Homo sapiens: one gene and its partner. The protein of the gene in region 2 interacts with the protein of the main gene of each other region in a pairwise test. Each region holds a gene or a part of one and is shown on either strand. Other genes may lie near its edges.

Region 1 (3,500 bases), about 89 Mb from region 2:
AGTGCAACGACATGATCCCAGGTGATTATATAGCGTGAACCAGACCTTACTGAACTGATGATCCTTGGAGGCTGGCTAGGAGCTGTGAAAAGTAGTAATATGCAATCAGTGGTCACTATATCCAATCTCAATTCTGCATACTCTATTGCATCAGGTATTATAATGCTGATGATAATGACCACCACCATCTAGTTTTAATAAGTGTTTACTATATGCCAGGCACTATGCTAAGCACTTTACATCCATGAGTCCATTTAATGTACCCCATGGCCCTGTGAGCTAGGTAATATGACTTTTATTCTCTTCTCATCATGCTCCACTTGGGTTTCTTTCTCCACTAGTCTTTTGAAATTGCTATTTGCAAGGTCATCAATCACCTCCACTTGGTTAAATCTAATGTCACTTGATTATTCTTTTTTAAATTTAACATTTTTGGAGCATTTCACAGAATTGACCATCTTCTTTCTTGAATCTCTCATTTTTTCTTAAATTCAGATCTTAACAACTGGGTTTTCCTTCTACCTCATGGGCTGCTGCTTCCCATTATTCATGCTTAGCTGGCTCCCTCTGTCAACTTGTAACTGTTGGATGATTTAGGACTTCATCTATGTACCTTTTCTACTCTCTCTGTGGATCTTCCCTAAGTACTGACACTTAGGCCCATGGCTTTAAATATTCACAGTTCTGTCTCTAGCCCTAATCTCTCTTTCAACCTCTAGACATATGTGGCTATAGGTCTCTCTGTCTAGGCAGATATCAGCCTATTTCTACTTGAGTCTCTAAAAGATTTCTCAAATGTAATATAATCAAATGTAATACATTTTTCAAATGTAATATAATGTCGAGTATCCTCAAATCTTTCTCCAATGACTCTTTGCCATCGTCAGCAAATGGCACAACCAACCCCCTAGTTTCTCAAGCAGAAATTTGGTATTTAGTCTCTCATCCCACTCATTGCCAACATCCAAATTGGCAGCAAGTTGTCAACTCTGCCTACAGAAAACTTTCCACTTCTGTCTCCATTTTCACTTAGTGCTAGCCACTATCAATTCTCTCCTTGACTGCTGAAATAGTCTCCTAACTGGCTTTTCTGCTTCCACTGTTAACCCACCACAATCCATTTTCTGTACAGATGCCAGAATGACTTTTTTAAAAACAACATCATAAATTAGATATCACTCTCTGTTTTAAAATCTTTCAATGGCTTCTTATCATGTTTAGAAAGAACTCAAACTCATCACAATTACTTACAAGGTTCTCCGTAATTGGGCCCCAGAACACTTCCCCCTCCTTACTCAGAACCTATGCCCTGGACCCAGTGGCCTTTCCACACCTAAAATATTTTAAGTGCTCTTCACCTTAAGGTTTTGTACTACTTAGAGTGCAAAGAACCTTAAGGCTCTGCCTAAAGCTATTCACATAGTGGGTTCTTCTTATCATTTATCACTCAAATCATAGCTTAACTGGCATCTTCTCAGAGGCCTTTCCTGGCCACCCAATCAGAATTTCACTTTTATCTAAGTCACTTTACTTTTGTCTATTTATTCATTTTATTGCCCTGTCAGCTGCTTTAATCCCACTTATTTATTTGTCAGAGTTTGTGTTTGTTTGAAGTTTCTATCTCATTTCATTAGCTTGTAAACCATGCGAGAATAGCACCTTGGACTGGTTTGATCCCTTTTGTATCCTCACCATCAAGAATAGTGCTGAGCACACAGCATATTTTTGATGAATGAATAAATACATGAACAAATGGAAAAAGAACAAAAATGAATGCTCCTTTTACAAATTAGAAAACTGAGGTTTAAATAGGTAATTTATCTATTGTCATACATCTAGCAAGTGGCAGAGACAGATCTCAAACACATGTTAGACACCAAATTCTAGTTCTTGTCACTACATTCTGTCATCTCACTGGGAGAGTCTCTGTCCCAAAGTGAATTTCATAAATTTTCACACTCTAATGGTAATCACATCTTCAGATTCTTGAGACATTCCCTAGAGTCCTACATAAAAATTCTCCTTTTTACTTATTCCACTTGGGTTCAAGAACAGAGATATCAAAATGAACCCAGAGAGATTAGAATGACCAGAACGTGAGCAGGGATAGGCGGTCTTGTTTTATGAACCACCTAAAACATACAGTACTAGAACATACAGTAATAAGAGAGTAAGCATAATGCTACACACTTAACTTGCATTGCACTGTGCAATGACAGAGGTTTATAAATTAAAGCATGTAAAAATAAGCAGAATTTTAGTTTTCACATGCTGTTGATGTACTCCTATGAAAACAATGTTTAAATTAATAAGTACAGGGTAAAGACAAGTTAATGGCACAGAATTTGAGAGGACAGCCTTTACAAAAGGATAGTTCTCTAACTTTATTTCTATAATGGAATATTTAACGTGTGAGGGTATTTTTCACATTTTTTCATCATCTACAATAATTCACGTTTTAAGGGAAATCTTGTGTGGCTGTAAAGGATATTGAAAAATGTGCTCAGGTAGCTAGGTAGGAAATTTCCTTCAAATATATTCGTATCATGATTGAATCCAGTGGTAGTTTTTGACAAGTCTAAAAACAAAACGTGAGACTCACGTGCTTTCTTGGTGAAAGCCTCAATCATGTCACTTGGAGGTCCACACCCTGCACTATTGCAGGCCCCGACTTCTATAAAATACTGGGTGTCTGGCAGAAGGTTCTCGAGCCTGGCCGAGTACTCTTGGCTGGTGACTTGAACTCTGTTTGCAGCTTCTTCTTTGTCATGGGCAGCCCAATACCGAATCTGCAAACATTCAGGATGAGTTATATTTTGCCATGATTTAGAGTCTTCAGCTATGAAAAGTTCTCTTCAACTGGTTCTATTACCATTGGTGTTGGCTGATCATCATATTTTCAAATGTTTCTTAATGATATCTACCCTTTTATCAGCCTTAGAATATAGTAAAGCATACAGGGCAGGAATGACTAAAGATGCCAAAAGCGAATCAAAGTCTTACTTCATTGCCCAAAATTGTTTTACATTGACTAAAAAAAATAAAAAATAAAAAATTTAAAAATCCCAAAAACTTTGAAGCAGACTTACTTTCAAAATATAAAAGTGGTCTCCATTTGGAAGTATTTGTCACTATAATTTTTATCATTTATTTCCTGTTTTACTTCTGTTTGCATGATTTCAAACTTCTTCTGAGCCATTCTTAAAGCAGTTGGAGAGGAATATAATTTTGCTGGATAAAAATAGTTACTATGTGGCCTAGAATACGCTAAAGTAATACTTTCTTCTGCCTCCTTTCAGAAGTATCTAATGTTATTTCCTTTGAACCCATATAGAAGCTAGATATCAAAGAAATATATCTAATAACTGGATAAACTGTAGAAATTATTTACCCATAAAATAATTTTTAAAAAAGTTATCGATTTTTTCATTAGAAATGATTACTTTTGTCAAATAATTACAGGATTACTTTTCTCTTAAAGTTTAAGAAAAGTTATGGAT
Region 2 (4,293 bases):
TACTTGATTGCAAGATGGGTGAGAACTTTCAAGTGATCAGAGAATCTTAGAGGGAGGTGATATGAACACATTGGGAAAAGAATGGCCCTGTCCCTGAATGTATAAATCACATCTGCATCATGAAATTCCATTTTATGCAATTTGCTAATAGGGGTGTTGATTTTTTTCTTGTTCTTTGACATATTGTGACTAATCCTGAATCATCTACCATGTGCTCAGACTCTGCTAATTGCTGTACAAAGTCTCCACACAGAACTGATTCACTTTTGAACTGTCTGGCTGACTTGCTTAAGTTCAATACACAAAATATGTCATATGCTAGGCTTATCGTAAACATTTTACGTGCTAATTTTTGGCCACCTAGTAAAGAGGCTTCCACATCACACAGGACCTCATTTAAGGACATGTTCAGTGTTCCCAGTTGAAAAAGTTCACAAGTATTAGGCTAAATACAATTCTCTTCAACACTGCTCAGTCTAATAAAGAAATCAGTAACAGACCTATGTACCTAAGTGAAAAAACACAATAGTGAGGTCCTATTTCCAAAGCTATTCTGTACCTTTCTTAATACAACCTTGTTATTGCAGCATAAACACAAAGAAGTCTGGACCTATTATAAAACCAAGTGAGAACCAACCCCCCCCGCCCCAAAAAAAAAATGCTGGGCTGTTGTTGCTGTGGATTTTGGTTTTTTTAACCTCACGTCTGCCTGAGTCAGGTTCACTGAATTCATCAACCTTTTCTTTGGTTTCCTGTGCACATTATAAATCCAGAAGGCTCTGATCCCAGGGATTGTTCTAACTCATAATTAGGAAACGTGAGCCCATTTCAACCACACTTCAAAGACAGGGAAGGAGGGGGAACGTAAATTCCTCTTTCTAAATCGAACCATCACAGAACTCGGCATTTCAACTGTCTTCATCTATTATCAGATCCAAAGCAACATAACCTCAGTGATTCTGGAAGAACTCAGAGAACAGACAATTCATGTAATTAAAAGACTTTGTGCGTGATAATTGGCTTTGAAGTTTCTGAGAGAGATCTCATCTCAAAAATCTTTGCAGAAAAATATGGGTACAGGGTTCTTGCAGCACGTATTAGAGACTGCTGAGACGCTTCACTCTCCTCCCAGTGTATCTATCTGCAGGAAAGGGGCACGGGTGGGGGAACCACACACAAGCAGCCCAGGTCAATCATGAGAAAGAATCTCCCGCACAAATCACACCATTTCTCTTCAAGGAAGAATGACTGTCCAGAGCTTCCAAACTTGCTCTTCCCATGACAGACAGGGATGCTGGCAGAAGAGAAGAGGAAACATTGAGGAATTCCTGCCTTGACACATGGCTTCAAGTCAGGGCTCCGCTGGGAAAATTCGGGTCACAACTTGTAGCTGAAACTCCACGTGCACCCTGCGGGGCCGCTGCTGCTCCCAGCACCCTACGGAAGGGTGAGCGCCAGACCCTGTGCCCAAACCTCACAGCGGCAGACCTGGAGAAACCCATCCCCCTTCTTCAGAGCCGCCCCCCAGGCTATATTTTTGGCAGCCTATAATACACAAAATAGTATTCCCATACAACAGGAGTGCTCCAAAATTATTTCCAAATAGGTCAGTGCCACCAGGGAAAGTCAATCCCAAATTCCAGAAATCTCCCTGGTCATCTCAATCCCCTCCTCCCCCGACAGCCGGCTCGGCCCTCCAGAGGCCACCTTTCCTCTCAAGGGTCCCCACGCCCTCTCCCTTTACAGAAAAGGCTTTCAGGAAACAGCCTTCCTTTCCTTTCGGCTCCTTAGTAGTCTCACCTAAGGCCTCCCACCCAAGTGCTCCAGGACAAGCACCTTCGGCCAAGGGGCGTCCGAGGAGCTTGGCTGCCGCACGAGCGCACGTTCACACGCGCGCACACACACATGCACACAAGCGCGCACACACACTTGCACACGAGCCCTCTCTCCCGGCCGCCCCCATCCTCCACACACTCCCACACACTCACTCCAGGCGAAGTTAGTCCCCGGGCCCTGGCGGCCGCGGCGTCCTCACCTTTGGAAAACAGGGCGGCCAGGCTGATGAGTACCGGCGACCAGTGGTGCCACAGCGTCCCCATCTCAGACGGGCACATCCTGGAGACCCGGAGCGCAGATCCTCCGCTCCCCGGCGCCGTCCAGGCGAACAAGAGACCGTCTCAGTCCCCTAGAGGCCCGCAGCGGGGCCGGTGGCGAGGGAGCGCCCGGCTAGGGGCCCGAGCAGCCCGGGCGCCCTGCTCCCTCTTCCCGCCAGTCCATGGCCAGGCCGGGAGGCGACGACCGCGCGGGCTCCTGAGTTGCTCTCCGGAGTCCAACACGCGCGCAGGCAAACCCCACCTCCCTCCTTCGACCCCAACAGAATTTTTTTTAAATTTTAATCCACAGGGGGTATTTCCTTTCCTGTTTACCCGAGCGAAGAGTGGCCCCCGGTGGCCCAAGGAGGGGCGCCTCCAGGCGCAGGGCTCCGGCGGCTCCAGCTGCTCCCGGGCTGGCTAGCGGGCGCTGGCGCAGGCGGCGCCGGGGTGGCGGGGCTGCGGAGCCCGGGACGCGGGCAGAGGCGGCTCGGAGCCCCCCGGGCGGGTGGCCGGGCTCGCTGGGCGGCCCGGGGCTCCCTGGCCCGCAGCCCCCATCCCAGGCCGGCCGCTGCGCCTCGGGGCTCGGGCGCGCGCGCGCTCCGGCACCCAAAGTTTGGCGGGTGCGGCTGCTCCCCGGCCGCCGCCTCGGCCCGCCCGGCCCCGGGCCCGGCTGGGGCTCGCGGGGCTCTACGCGCGCCGAGCGCACTGCAGGCTCCGGAGACGCGGGGCTCCCCCCTGCGCCCGGGGGAGGCGGGCCAGATGTGCGCGGAGGAGGGCCCGCCGGCTCGGGGACGCGGCCGAGCAACGCAGCTGCCTCCTGCCAGCAGGCGCGGGGGCTCCGCTCCGCAAGGACCGCATCCGGAACGGAACGGAGGCGATCGCCACGGTGCCCGGAGCCGGCTGGGGCTTTCGCCTTAAAAATTTGTCTGCTTTTAAAAAGCCCCACCCTTTCGGAGTGACAGCTGTGAGCCCCAATCCGCAAAGTAAATCCCACCTCCCCCTGGCCGCCCCACGCCCAGCCTCCCGGCCACCCTCCCTGCGAGCGCGGACGCGCGGTGGCGGCGGGCGAGGGCTCCCAGCGCGGGCGCACCCCGGGGACGGAGCCACCCACTCTCCCAACAGGTGTCCAGCTGGCCACCGGCCTCTCGTCGTCATCAAAACCTCAGGCCCAGGGGAGGTCCTCCAGCCCGGGGGCACCTGAGGCTCTTCGCCAGGGAGAGCGCAAGGATGGCTGGAGAAGGGCCCTCGCCCCGCCCTGCGCATCTCCCAGGGATCGCAGTGAGGAAGTCTCTGACACGCCACACTGAGGTCATGCTGGCCCCAAGCCCCTTCCCAGAGCGATCCCCCAAGTTAGTGTCCCTAGAAACATGTCGTGTGCTCCCCAGGGCTCACTGGGAAAGGAAATGGATCCATTAGGAGACAACATTGCTTTGAGAAGATAAAAGACATGATTCTCAACACCGCCCGGAATCTCCAACTAAGACATTCCCACACCAAGATCCCTAAGCACCGTCCTGTAATTTGTAGCCCAAGAACTGCTTTGCTCCACGAGAGCCTTTAAATTAACCCCATCAAAGCTCAGAGGGAAGAAAAGCATTCAGAATTTTTAAGGAATATTGTAAACCAACAAGCCCTGAATCTAATGAGGTGAATTCACCTCAGTAGATAAAAATGGGTCGTTATCATCTGACTGAGGGGGCAATGGACTTTTTTATCCTGTATGCCTGTAGTTGCAGAAATATACCAATGCTTTAAGAGTTTTTAGCTTTCAAAGTTTCAAGGAAGATCAAAAAAGCCACTGCTGTTCTACCGAAGATTGTTTTTCTGGGTTCATGTCCTTTGAGATGTGCTCTTGTCTTTTATTCTGTATCTACTTATCTGAATATATCTGTCTTTCTGTTTTTTCTTTTGTTTGTTTCTTAAACTTGTTGCCTTTTCTCTTTGTATTGCTCTCCTGTAAAATTCCTAAGAGTCGACGCTGCAAAGACCCTAAGAGATTGTCTCTTTCACTGTTTCTGAAGTTTGAACCAGCAGGAGAGTCACTGGAAAATTTGTTAGACCTGGGTTGCTGGGCCCACCCCAGAGCTATCTCGGCAGGTCAAGGTGGGACTTCCGATCTCCGTTCCTAAAAAGTTCCAGGTGATGCTGATGCTGCCGGCCTGCGGAACACGTGCTGGAACCACTGGTCCCCTTTCTCCTT

What was found. Proteins that work in one complex are often made in the same cells at the same time.
Region 1: the proteins of TMEM132D (region 2) and CNTN1 interact in a two-hybrid assay, tested with the Homo sapiens proteins (one large-scale study listed by BioGRID).

What each region holds. Positions count from the first base shown.
Region 1 is NC_000012.12:41,024,439-41,027,938, reverse strand, and holds part of CNTN1 (contactin-1 isoform 1 precursor), read right to left. Parts: intron 2,790-3,500; coding exon 2,603-2,789; intron 83-2,602; coding exon 1-82. UniProt on the Homo sapiens protein: Contactins mediate cell surface interactions during nervous system development.
Region 2 is NC_000012.12:129,901,226-129,905,518, forward strand, and holds the start of TMEM132D (transmembrane protein 132D precursor), read right to left. Parts: upstream 2,801-4,293; 5' UTR 2,115-2,800; coding exon 2,036-2,114; intron 1-2,035. UniProt on the Homo sapiens protein: Regulate neuronals morphology via inhibition of the WAVE regulatory complex (WCR), a complex that controls F-actin cytoskeletal dynamics.